Linked DNA regions of Homo sapiens: region 2 is linked to region 1. The links come from fine-mapping of genetic effects on gene expression. A gene starts in region 1. The other region holds a variant in brackets. All regions are shown on one strand. Distances are from middle to middle. Region 1 holds the start of CASS4 (Cas scaffold protein family member 4). Region 2 overlaps CASS4 (Cas scaffold protein family member 4).

Evidence for each region. PIP is the estimated chance that this variant, and not a neighbour inherited with it, causes the effect. A credible set is the group of variants that fine-mapping cannot tell apart.
Region 2: its variant is the best candidate, but not a certain one, in a credible set for the expression of CASS4 in T cells (TOPMed, PIP 0.72).

What each region holds. Positions count from the first base shown.
Region 1 is chr20:56,409,466-56,414,844 of GRCh38, forward strand. CASS4 (Cas scaffold protein family member 4) reads left to right here and starts at 2,795. Exons shown (of 6, transcript NM_020356.4): 1 at 2,795-3,029. The coding sequence starts at 2,994.
Region 2 is chr20:56,452,404-56,457,782 of GRCh38, forward strand. It overlaps CASS4 (Cas scaffold protein family member 4), which reads left to right. Exons shown (of 6, transcript NM_020356.4): 5 at 1-726. Among named protein-coding and RNA genes, the nearest start is that of RTF2, 14 kb to the right of the region's middle. The variant C/A (reference allele first, on the strand shown) is at 2,622.

The DNA.
Region 1 (5,379 bases):
TTCAAATATCGAGTGCCCAGTGTTTCACTACTACCAGTCAGGGAGCTTGATATTCACATGAAAACAACATAAAAGCATACAGAAAAACATGCAAAAGCAATTTTCCTCCCTACGCATGTATAAGGCACTATAGAAGTGAATTGGTCAGACTCACTTGTCTCAGAAAAGAAAATTCGGTCCAAACTACTGTTCTTGATAGCACATTTGCCAAGAGCATTAAGATTACCTCACTAGAGTCCTTCTGACGTAGTTCCCTTGAACTCCAGCTGTTTCAGCCTTCAGACAACCGGATATTATGCAAGCACCCAGTTTCCTAGACTAATAGTTCTTGCAATGTTTGTCCACATTAAAGGCTCATTTGCCTTAAAATACTAATGGATTGCAGCAAAATGTCTAAGGCAGTTTCTCACACCTTTCATTCAGAAAAACCATAGAGGGCTCAAATAACAGACCGAGAGGTCAAGTTCCTTATTCACAAAATATCAAACTAGGTATCTATGTAGGAGCTAGTTGATATAATTTCAGGGCCAAAGCCTATTACTTTTGTGTCTTACTTTTCTAGTTGAGGTTGTTTTCCCTAGAAAAAACAACTTGTGAATTATAGCATTCTGATCTGTATTATGAGCTTAAGGGCAGGCTCTTCAGTATAGGGAAGAATCACTGCCGGGAGTCTGCCAAGTTGATGGAAACCATCTGAACTTGAGTTACTGTGGAGTCTTTTCTAAGAGACTTGAATTCAGTTTCTGGGTCTGTTACTTTACTCTGTGACCTTGGGCAAGTTTATCCATCCTTCCTTTTCATTACAGAGAATTTCAGACATAAAAGTCAACAATACAGCAGAAACAGTGGTTTCCAGGGGCTGGGGGAAGAACAAGTAACTGCTAATGGGGTAAATGTCCAGGAATTGAAAGAGGATTACTTTTTGAAATGGTGGTTGCACAACTCTGAATGTACTAAAAACCACTGAATTGTATACTTCAAAAAGGTGCATTGGCCAGGTGCGGTGGCTCACACCTATAATCCCAGCACTTTGGGAGGCTAAGGCAGGTGAATGACGAGGTCAGGAGATCAAGACCATCCTGGCCAACATGGTGAAACCCTGTCTCTACTAAAATACAAAAAAATTAGCCGGGCATGGTGGCACGCACCTATAATCCCAGCTACTTGGGAGGCTGAGGCAGGAGAATCTCTTGAAACCTGGAGGTGGAGGTTGCAGTGAGCCGAGATTACACCACTGCACTCCAGCCTGGTGACAGAGCAAGACTCCGTCTCAAAAAAAATAAATAAATAAAGGTGAATTTTATGGTACCTGAATTATATCTTAATATAATATTAATATATTATTATTAATATAATTTATATCTTAATATCTCTATGGATCTCCTCCTTGAACCAAACTGTTCATTGCGTGGGGTCATTGTTCCCTCCCTGTTATCTGCTATCGCCTGCAGCATGCCAATTACTTGGCCCTGAAGTTAATTTCTAACAATGATAACATTTAAAAATGTGGACTGTCTCAGCCAGAAATCAGTCAGCTACTTCAATGGGTAAATACATCCTGGTGCCCAGACTTGTGGGGACGACACATGGGACAACCAGAGGACAAGACGCTAAGTGCTATCTGTTGAACTTGCCTCAGAGGTGTGGTAAAAGAAAAGAAAATTTAAAAATAAAAAATTAAAAAATGCTGTCTGACAAGAAGATAGCGGTAAGCTATCCCCCACAGCTGGTTGGGGATAGAACTTGAGCCTGGCTTGGAAGAATGGGCACCATTTTGTCTAAATAAAAATGCAGGCCGGGGCCAGGCGTTGTGGCTCACGCCTGTAATCCCAGCATTTTGAGAGGCTGAGGTGGGTGGATCACTTGAGGTCAGGAGTTTGAGACCAGCCTGGCCAACATGGTGAAGTCCTGTCTCTACTGAAAATACAAAAATTAGCCAGGCGTGGTGGCGGGTGCCTGTAATCCCAGCTGCTCTGGAGGCTGAGGCAGGAGAATCACTTGAACCCGGGAGGTGGAGGTTGCAGTGAGCCGAGATTGCGCCACTGCGCTCCCACCTGAGTGACAGAGAAAGACTCCGTCTCAAAAAAAAAAAAAAATGCAGACTTATTTTGCTCAGTGTCTGCTATGCTGTAGGTCCTCTCTAGAGATTGGATCTGAATTTAGGAAAAGTAAAAAGAGTTGGCAAGTGATGATAAACTGCATGAGCTAGCAGGGGTTTCAAGTACAACACACACGATAAGTTTATTTGATTTAAGAGAGAGAATACAGGTGCGGGGCTCAGCATAGCCCTCAGTGCAGAGCCAGTACCCAGAAGATGTTATTCATTAGGTACCATGAGCAAAGACCAGGAGATGAGCATGGGGTTCCGAGCAGGGTGAATGCACAACTGACAGGGTGGGTAGAGTGGAGACTGTGTCCTTTAAGGCAGCCTGTTTGACTGCTTTTATCCTGGCTGTCATAAGGCAAGTTTTAGGGAGCAGGAAGGAAGAAATGCTGACCGCTATCAGAAATTTGGCCTAGTGGCCTCTCATCAGGGAAATGAGCTTGGTCTGTTCGGTTGGAGTTGTTCCACAGAGTTCAAAGGACAAGAATGCTGTGTGTTCATACACTGAGCTCTTCGAAGTAGGAACTTCGCCCTATAAAGCAGAAGAGTGGTGTTTTTTTCTTCTTCTTCTTCTTTTGTGGTTTCACATAGCAAATGAGTGACAGTCTCTACTTACAGACAAAGTGAGACGTCAGGCATTGAGACGTGAGTGTGGCTTGTATTTCTGGTCCTCCCCTGCTTCACTGCTTTCATTTTACTCTTATCGTGCTTTCCAGAAAGTTTGCCTGCTGGGAGAGTCTTTTTGATCGTTTCCCATGTGTTGTCAGATAGCTCCATAGAATTCAGTTTCTGAGAACCAGCCAGAAGCATGCAGTGACATTGCACAATCTGCCTCTGAAGCTGGAGATACTAGCTGCAGAGCTCAGGGGAGCTGCTCCACATCACCGACATGAAGGGAACAGGCATCATGGACTGTGCGCCCAAGGTGAGTGATGTGGGGCTGTTTGAATGGGCTCTGGCGGGGAGCAAGCTGTGATGATTAAGGGTGTTGACCAGCTTTAGTTGTGACTTTCTAATAAAGGTTGAATACCAGTGACGTGTGAGTTGGAGATGGGAAAGTTTAACATAAGTTTAAGTGTGGGAAATAGATGTGTTGTAAAGCTCCTTACCAGTTTGCATCCAAGATGGGTGAAAATGACTTTGTAGTAGAAATCAGCTTACTTGGTTGACAGCGCCGTCCATCATTTTGCGTCCAGCAAACTCCTGAAGCAAGATGCGAGTCTGCCTCAGCCCCCGCTAATTCCTTCTTTCTCTGGACCCCAAAGACACTCAGTGCCACTCTAACTGTCCTATTTGGTTTCTGTGCTCACCTCCCAACAGCAGAGCCCAGACCCTTGCCTGCAGCCTCCCGTGCTGAGCCCACAGTGGGCACTTACATGTTATTTTCATGTTAACTTGTGCATTATGTGAGCAAAGCTGGAGCTTTCAGACAGACTTCATGCCTGTCATGAATCAAAAAAGATTCACTATTTAGAAAGGTGAAAGAAGCCAGGCACGGTGGTACATACCTGTACTCCAGCTACCGGAGAGGCTGAGGTGAGAAGATTAATTCAGCCCAGAAGTTTGAGTCCAGCCTGGGCAACATAGCGAGACCCCATCTTAAAAAAAAAAAAAAGAAAAGAAAAGTTAAAATGGCTACCATATTAAAAAAAAATTTACCCAGACATAAAGAAAGTGAAGCTCAAGGTTGTGTTTTCATCTTGCTATGCCCTTTTTAAATTTTAAGTAGAACAGGAAAAAAGAAATGAAACAAGCAGTAAATGGGGAGCTTGCTTATAAAAATCAATGCTTATTTTTCATTATAATAAAAGTGACTAGTGTGGCTGTCTGCGGTGGCTCACACCTGTAATCCCAGCACTTTGGGAGGCCAAGGCAGGTGGATCACTTGAGGCCAGGAGTTTGAGACCAGCCTGATCAACATGAAAAAACCCCATATCTACCAAAAATACAACAATTAGCTGAGCGTGGTGGCGCATGCCCGTGATCCCAGCTACTCGGGAGGCTGAGGCACAAGAATCGCTTGAGCCTGGGAGGCAGAGGTTGCAGTGAGCTGAGATTATACCACTGCATTCCGGCCTGGGTGACAGAGCAAGACTCTGTCTCAAAAAAAAAAAAAAAAAAAAAAAAAAAGTCACTAGTGGAATTTGTGACTGAGTAACCCATGACAGTCTCTCTTGTATAGATTATATGTAAATATCTTAGCTACCCTAGAATTTTGTCCCCAACTACTTACTTTGAAAAATTTCAAACCATTGGAAAAATATGGGAAGCGTGGGGGTTATTCAGTAAATCCCTGCATATCCTTCACCTAGATCATTGGTTTCTGGTACTTTGTCATATTTGTGTGCATTTATTTGTGTATATTTAGACACTGGAACACACTTCATTTTTATTGTTGTTGTTAAACTCTTTGAAAATAAATGGCCAATACAATGACGCTCCACCCCTAAACTTCATTATGTGTCTCCTAAGAACAAGGACATTCATCTACAGAACGTAGAAGAATATCTACATATCATCATACCCAAGAACATTTCACATTTATTTAATAATGCCTTTCTACTATTCAGTCTAATTCACGTTGATTTAATAATGCCATTCTACTATTCAGTCCACATTCACATTTTCCAAAATTATCCTTTTTAGCTTTTCTGGCTGTTGTTGTTTGTGTGTGTGTTTGTCTTTCTGATCCAGGTGGTGTTTGTCAATTCTCAGTTCTTAATCTAGAACAATCTACTACCTTTTTCTCTTTCATAACATTGACCTTTTTTCTAAACAGCCTAGATTTTTTATGATTTAGACTTCTTTTTATGTACTGCTTATTCTGCCTAAATAATTTATGTAGCGCTTTACAATTGGGTGGGGTTTTGTTATTTAAAAAAAATATTTTTAGCAATGGGGGTATCACTCTGTTGTCCAAGCTGGACTCAAATTCCTGAACTCAGGTGATTCTTCTGCCTCAGCCTCCCAAGTACAGGATTACAGGTGCACACCACCGAGCCCCACTGCAATTTGTAAATAACATGCATGTTTGCATAGAACATATAATTGATATTCCCAGCATCCCCATGAAATTCTGCTATTAATATTATACAGATAGGCCGGGAGCGGTGGCTCATGCCTGTAATCCCACCACTTTCAGAGGCTGAAGCGTGTGGATCACCTGAGGTCAGGGGATTAGCCTGGCCAAAATGGTGAAACCCCATCTCTAGTAAAAATACAAAAAAATTAGCTGGGCATAGTGGTGCACGTCTGTATTCCCAGCTACTCGGGAG
Region 2 (5,379 bases), 43 kb after region 1:
GTTTCCTCGTGCTCCACCACATCCACCGACGACTCCTCCAGCTCTTCCTCGGAGGAGTCAGCAAAGGAGCTCTCCTTGGACCTGGATGTGGCCAAGGAGACAGTGATGGCTCTGCAGCACAAGGTGGTCAGCTCTGTCGCTGGCCTGATGCTCTTTGTCAGCAGGAAGTGGAGATTCCGAGACTATCTGGAGGCCAACATTGATGCAATCCACAGGTCCACTGATCACATAGAAGAATCTGTAAGAGAATTTCTGGATTTTGCCCGAGGAGTCCATGGGACTGCCTGTAACCTCACTGACAGTAACCTTCAGAACAGAATTCGGGACCAGATGCAGACCATCTCCAACTCCTACCGCATCCTGCTTGAAACAAAGGAAAGCTTGGATAATCGCAATTGGCCTCTGGAAGTTCTTGTGACTGACAGTGTCCAGAACAGCCCAGATGACCTTGAGAGGTTTGTCATGGTGGCACGGATGCTTCCAGAAGACATCAAGAGGTTTGCCTCCATTGTCATTGCCAATGGAAGGCTCCTTTTTAAGCGGAACTGTGAAAAGGAAGAGACTGTGCAGTTGACCCCAAATGCAGAATTTAAGTGTGAAAAATACATCCAGCCTCCCCAAAGAGAAACTGAATCACACCAAAAGAGTACCCCTTCCACTAAGCAAAGGGAAGATGAACACTCTTCTGAACTATTAAAGAAAAATAGGGCAAATATCTGTGGACAGGTGAGTTCAGAGTTCCAAGTGATCGAAAAAGGGGCTTCAATTGTTACCTGGAGTAGTGGCTACTAAGATGCTGAGACTCTTTCCATAGTGTATAGGCTTTGGGGAGACACTGGTTCCATTTTCTAGAAAATAAAATTTATGAAAGTAAAATTCTTGATGAAATCTTATTAACAAGTCAGATAAAGATAGGTCAGCATAGGCAGATAGGTCAGTTGATTTGGATTTCTTCCGAAAACTTTTGGCGTTCAAGTTTACCATATTAGAATTAAAAGGGATTTTTAAATTTCTTAAAAATTTATTATTTGAGTAGATTTTTAAAACCTCACCACCAAGTCTCCTTGCATTTTTGAAAGTTATAAATTTAGTCATTCTCAGTGTGTTTCTTAGCAACGAAAGAGGAAGTAGAAACATTCTTTCAAATTGCCCATGGTCTGATCAGCCCCCAGACTTCAGCTACTCTTAGAAATACTTTTCTGAGGCTGGGCCTGGTGGCTTATGCCTGTAATTCCAACGCTTTGGGAGGCCAACGCAGGAGGATCCCTTGAGGCAGGAGTTTGAGACCAGGCTGGGCAACATAGTGAGACCCCAGCTGTACAAAATTTATTTTTAAATATCCAGGTGTAGTGGCTCATGCACTTGGGAGTCTGAGTGGGGGTATCCCTTGAGACCAGGAGTTTGGGGTTGCAGAGAGCTATGATGGTGCCACTGCACTCCAGCCTTGGTGACAGAGCAAGAGCTAATCTCTAAAAAAAAGAAAAGAAAAAAAAGAGTTGGGATATAGTGGCTCACTCCTGTAAACCCAGCACTTTGGGAGGCCAAGGCGAGCAGATCACTTGAAGTCAGGAGTTTGAGACCAGCCTGGCCAACATGATGAAACCCCATCTCTACTAAAAATACAAAAATTAGCTGGGCATGGTGGTGTGCGCCTGTAATTCCAGCTACTCAGGAGGCTGAGGCAGGAGAATCACTTGAACCCAGGAGGCAGAGGTTGCAGTGAGCTGAGATTGCATCACTGCACTCCATCCTGGACCACAGAGCAAGACTCTGTCTCAAGAACAACAACAACAAAAAAACAAAAGACAGAAAGAAATACTTTTCTGGATGAGTTCAGACATTATAGAGCGAGATGCTTCAGTTCAGGGATTGTGAGCCTTAAGAGGCCCAGAAGTCACTTGGGGGCTGTGTCAAGGAGATAATTTGCTACTTTCAGCCCCGACCTTTGTGTTCTGCTGAAATGCCTGGTGGTGTAGGAGCTTTAACATGTTCTAGAAATTTGGATGTTTAAAATTTACATACACATATATATAACTTTAAACAAACCATGTGGGTCATTATATCAGGCCATGTTGATAGGCAAAATTCAGCCTTTGGGTGGCCAAAGTCTCCTTTGGTTGAGAAAAGGAATCAGTAGGCAGAACCATCAACAGAAAATATGAGAAAGAATGCTCAAGTCTAAAGTGAACTTAAACAGTTCCACTGTAGTGTAAAACACCACTCAATTTGGTAAGTTGAAGGGATTTTATTTTTCAGACATTGCCTAACTTAGAAGAGAAAGATAAACCTATCTTGGAATAAAGGTTAGATGAAAACAAAGACTTAGGAACCATGGTAAGCTATAGCACTCACTCTCTAAAGCTTCTGATTCATACGCTCTATTGCTAGATTCGTCTCATCATGCTACGGATAGCTCAACATTACAGCCATGACCCACATGGGCGAGAGTTCGTTTTTGTGATTCTTTGTCCTTTATTTTAGCAAGAGAGTCCTGGAGATCACTGAGTCTAATGAACGAACCCCAGGGAATGAAAGTGAAGCATTAACCATTACTGAAATGACTGTAGGGGCTCTGCAAGGTTGTTGTGGGTGGTACTGACAGGGCTAAATAGGACTGACTC[C/A]GTTCCTCTTTGACATTCTGATTTAATGTTTCTGATTACAACAGCAAATCTTGATTTGGGGCTTGTATATCTTCAACACCTCTTTTACACTTGATGTTCTTCCTTTTTTAAAAAAAAAAAAGTCAAAGATGTTATCGTTGTGCTTATTTTTATTGGTTTCCTTCTATTTGTGGTCAATGACAGTAGTTTTCCATTTACCATTTTTCACAGTTTCCTTTAAATTAATGTAAGTAAAAACAATGGGTCCATTTAAAGGAAAGGAATGAAGCCAGTAGAAGTTAAGAGGAAGGTGGAAAGAGTATAACTTGTAAAGGTTGTAAAGGTTGTCTCTGAATAACTGAGCTTGGGAAACTTACCTAGGTTATAGGGCAGATGGGGTAGAGGGTGGAAGAAAAGGATGTCCAATGATAGGATAAGGTCATGTACCTTCTCAGAGGCAAACTAGGACAAGAATTCAGGCCTCCTGATGCTCAGCTCCCTGAACCCCAAACACTAGTCTTTGGGCCTGCCATATTGCTGACAGTTATGCTATTTTGTTCAACATTAAGTAGGCCTTAGACTAGTGGTTCTCACATTTGAGTGTATCACAATCACCTATGATCTTTGTTAAAACTCACATGGCTGGCCGGGCATGGTGGCTCACGCCTGTAATCCCAGCACTTTGGGAGGCCGAGGCGGGTGGATCGCCTGAGGTCAGGAGTTTGAGACCAGCCTGACCAACATGGTGAAACCCCGTTTCTACTAAAAATACAAAAAATTAGCTGGGCATGATAGCGGGCACCTGTAATCCCAGCTACTCGGGAGGCTGAGGCAGGAGAATTGCTTGAACCCGGAAAGCAGAGGTTGCGGTGAGCTGAGATCGCACCACTGCACTCCAGCCTGGGCAACAAGAACAAGACTCTGTCTCAAGAAAACAAACAAACAAAAACAAACAAACTTGCATGGCTGGGCCCCGCTCTCAGAATTTTTGATCTAGTAGGTCTGGGGTGCAGCATAATAATGTGCATTTCTAGCAAGTTTGCAGGTGACGTTGATGCTTCTGGTCCAAGGACCTCACTTGGAAAGCCCCCGCTTTAGACTGACAGCACTTCTCAGTGGAGGCCCGGGGCACCGTTGGCCACCGGGTGGACAGTTCTCCATTGCGTGGTGAACCGTTCAGCATCCCAGAACCCCTGCCCGCTCACTGCCTATAGAAGTCCCTAGTCAATGCGATAACCAAAACTATCTCCACACATTTCCAGCACCCCATGTTAAGAATCTTAGTACATTTTTCACCTCCCTACGGTTAATATTTTCACTTAAGATGCTCATAATCTGATGCCTACCTCATTACTTCTCGTTATTTCTAAACTCTTCTTTTTTTTTTTGAGACGAAGTCTTGCTCTGTCACCCAGGTGGGAGTGCAGTGGCGTGATCTCAGCTCATTGCAATCTCCGCCTCACAGGTTCGGGCGATTCTCCTGCCTCAGCCTCCTGAGTAGCTGGGACTACAGGCGCCTGCCACCACACCCGGCTAATTTTTTGTATTTTTGGCAGAGACAGGGAGTCACCATGTTGGCAAGGCACATCTCAAATTCCTGACCTCAAGTGACCCTCCTGCCTCAGCCTCCCAAAGTGCTGGGATTACAGGTGTGAGTCACCGTGCCCAGCTCCCTTTTTTATTTTATTTTTTTGAGACAGTGTTTTGCTCTGTTGCTGAGGCTAGAGTGCAGTGGTGAGATCATGGCTCACTGCAGCCTCCACCACCCAGGTTCAATCGATTCTCCCACCTCAGCCTCCCAAGTAGCTGGGACTACAGGCCCGCACCGCCATACCTGGCTAATTTTTGTTTTGTTTTGTTTTTGGTAGAGACAGAGTTTCGTATGTTGCCAAGGCTAGTCTCAAACTCCTAGGGTTAAGCGATCCTCCTGCCTCGGCCTCCCAAAGTGCTGGGATTACAGGTGTGGGTCACTGCACTCAACCTGCTTCATTCTTATACTCCCTGCTTCCAAGAGTCCATGTGAACTGACATTTCAATCTTTCCTTCACTTTCTATGACAAAGACAATCATTGTTTTCATTTTCCAAATATGCAATTCTAATAATGAAGGTGCTTCTTCGAAGTATGCCTTCCTCTTCCTTGTCTAACTTCCCCTCCAACCCTACTAGGAGACATAACCCCCTTCTGAAAAAATCAGTTTTATGCCCTATCTGTCTGAATGCTTCCGGGCTATGAATTTTGAGATAATAGGTAAATGCGAGCGTGTGAAATTTAATGGAAAGAAAGCAAGTTTCAGACCTAGAGCTCCAGATCTCTCATGTGCTAATGGAATAGCCGGAGGCAGCCTTTTCTCTTCTCTGAGCTTCACCTTTCAATTGTTACCTGGAGTTGTGGCCACTAAGTTAGGTACTGAAAATCTTTGAGAGTATGTAGGATTTGGGAGAAGTTGGTTCCATTTTCCAGAAAATAAAATTCATGAATGTAAAATTTTGATGAAACCTTATTAGCAAATATGATAAATATTTTAATATTAAGGCAAAAAATAAAATAAATAATATTAAGGCAGATAGGTCAGGGTATTTAGTTGCTTCTGGAAATGTTGAGAGTTCTGATATATCTCTGATACTGAAATCAGAGGATTTTTGGCTTTTTAAATGTTTTTAAATCTGTTCTTTGAGAAAATTTTAAATCTCATCAAGTTTTTGTGCATTTTTAAAAGTTACAAATTTAGCTGGGTGCAGTGGCTCACCCCTGTAATCCCAGCACTTTAAGGAGGCTGA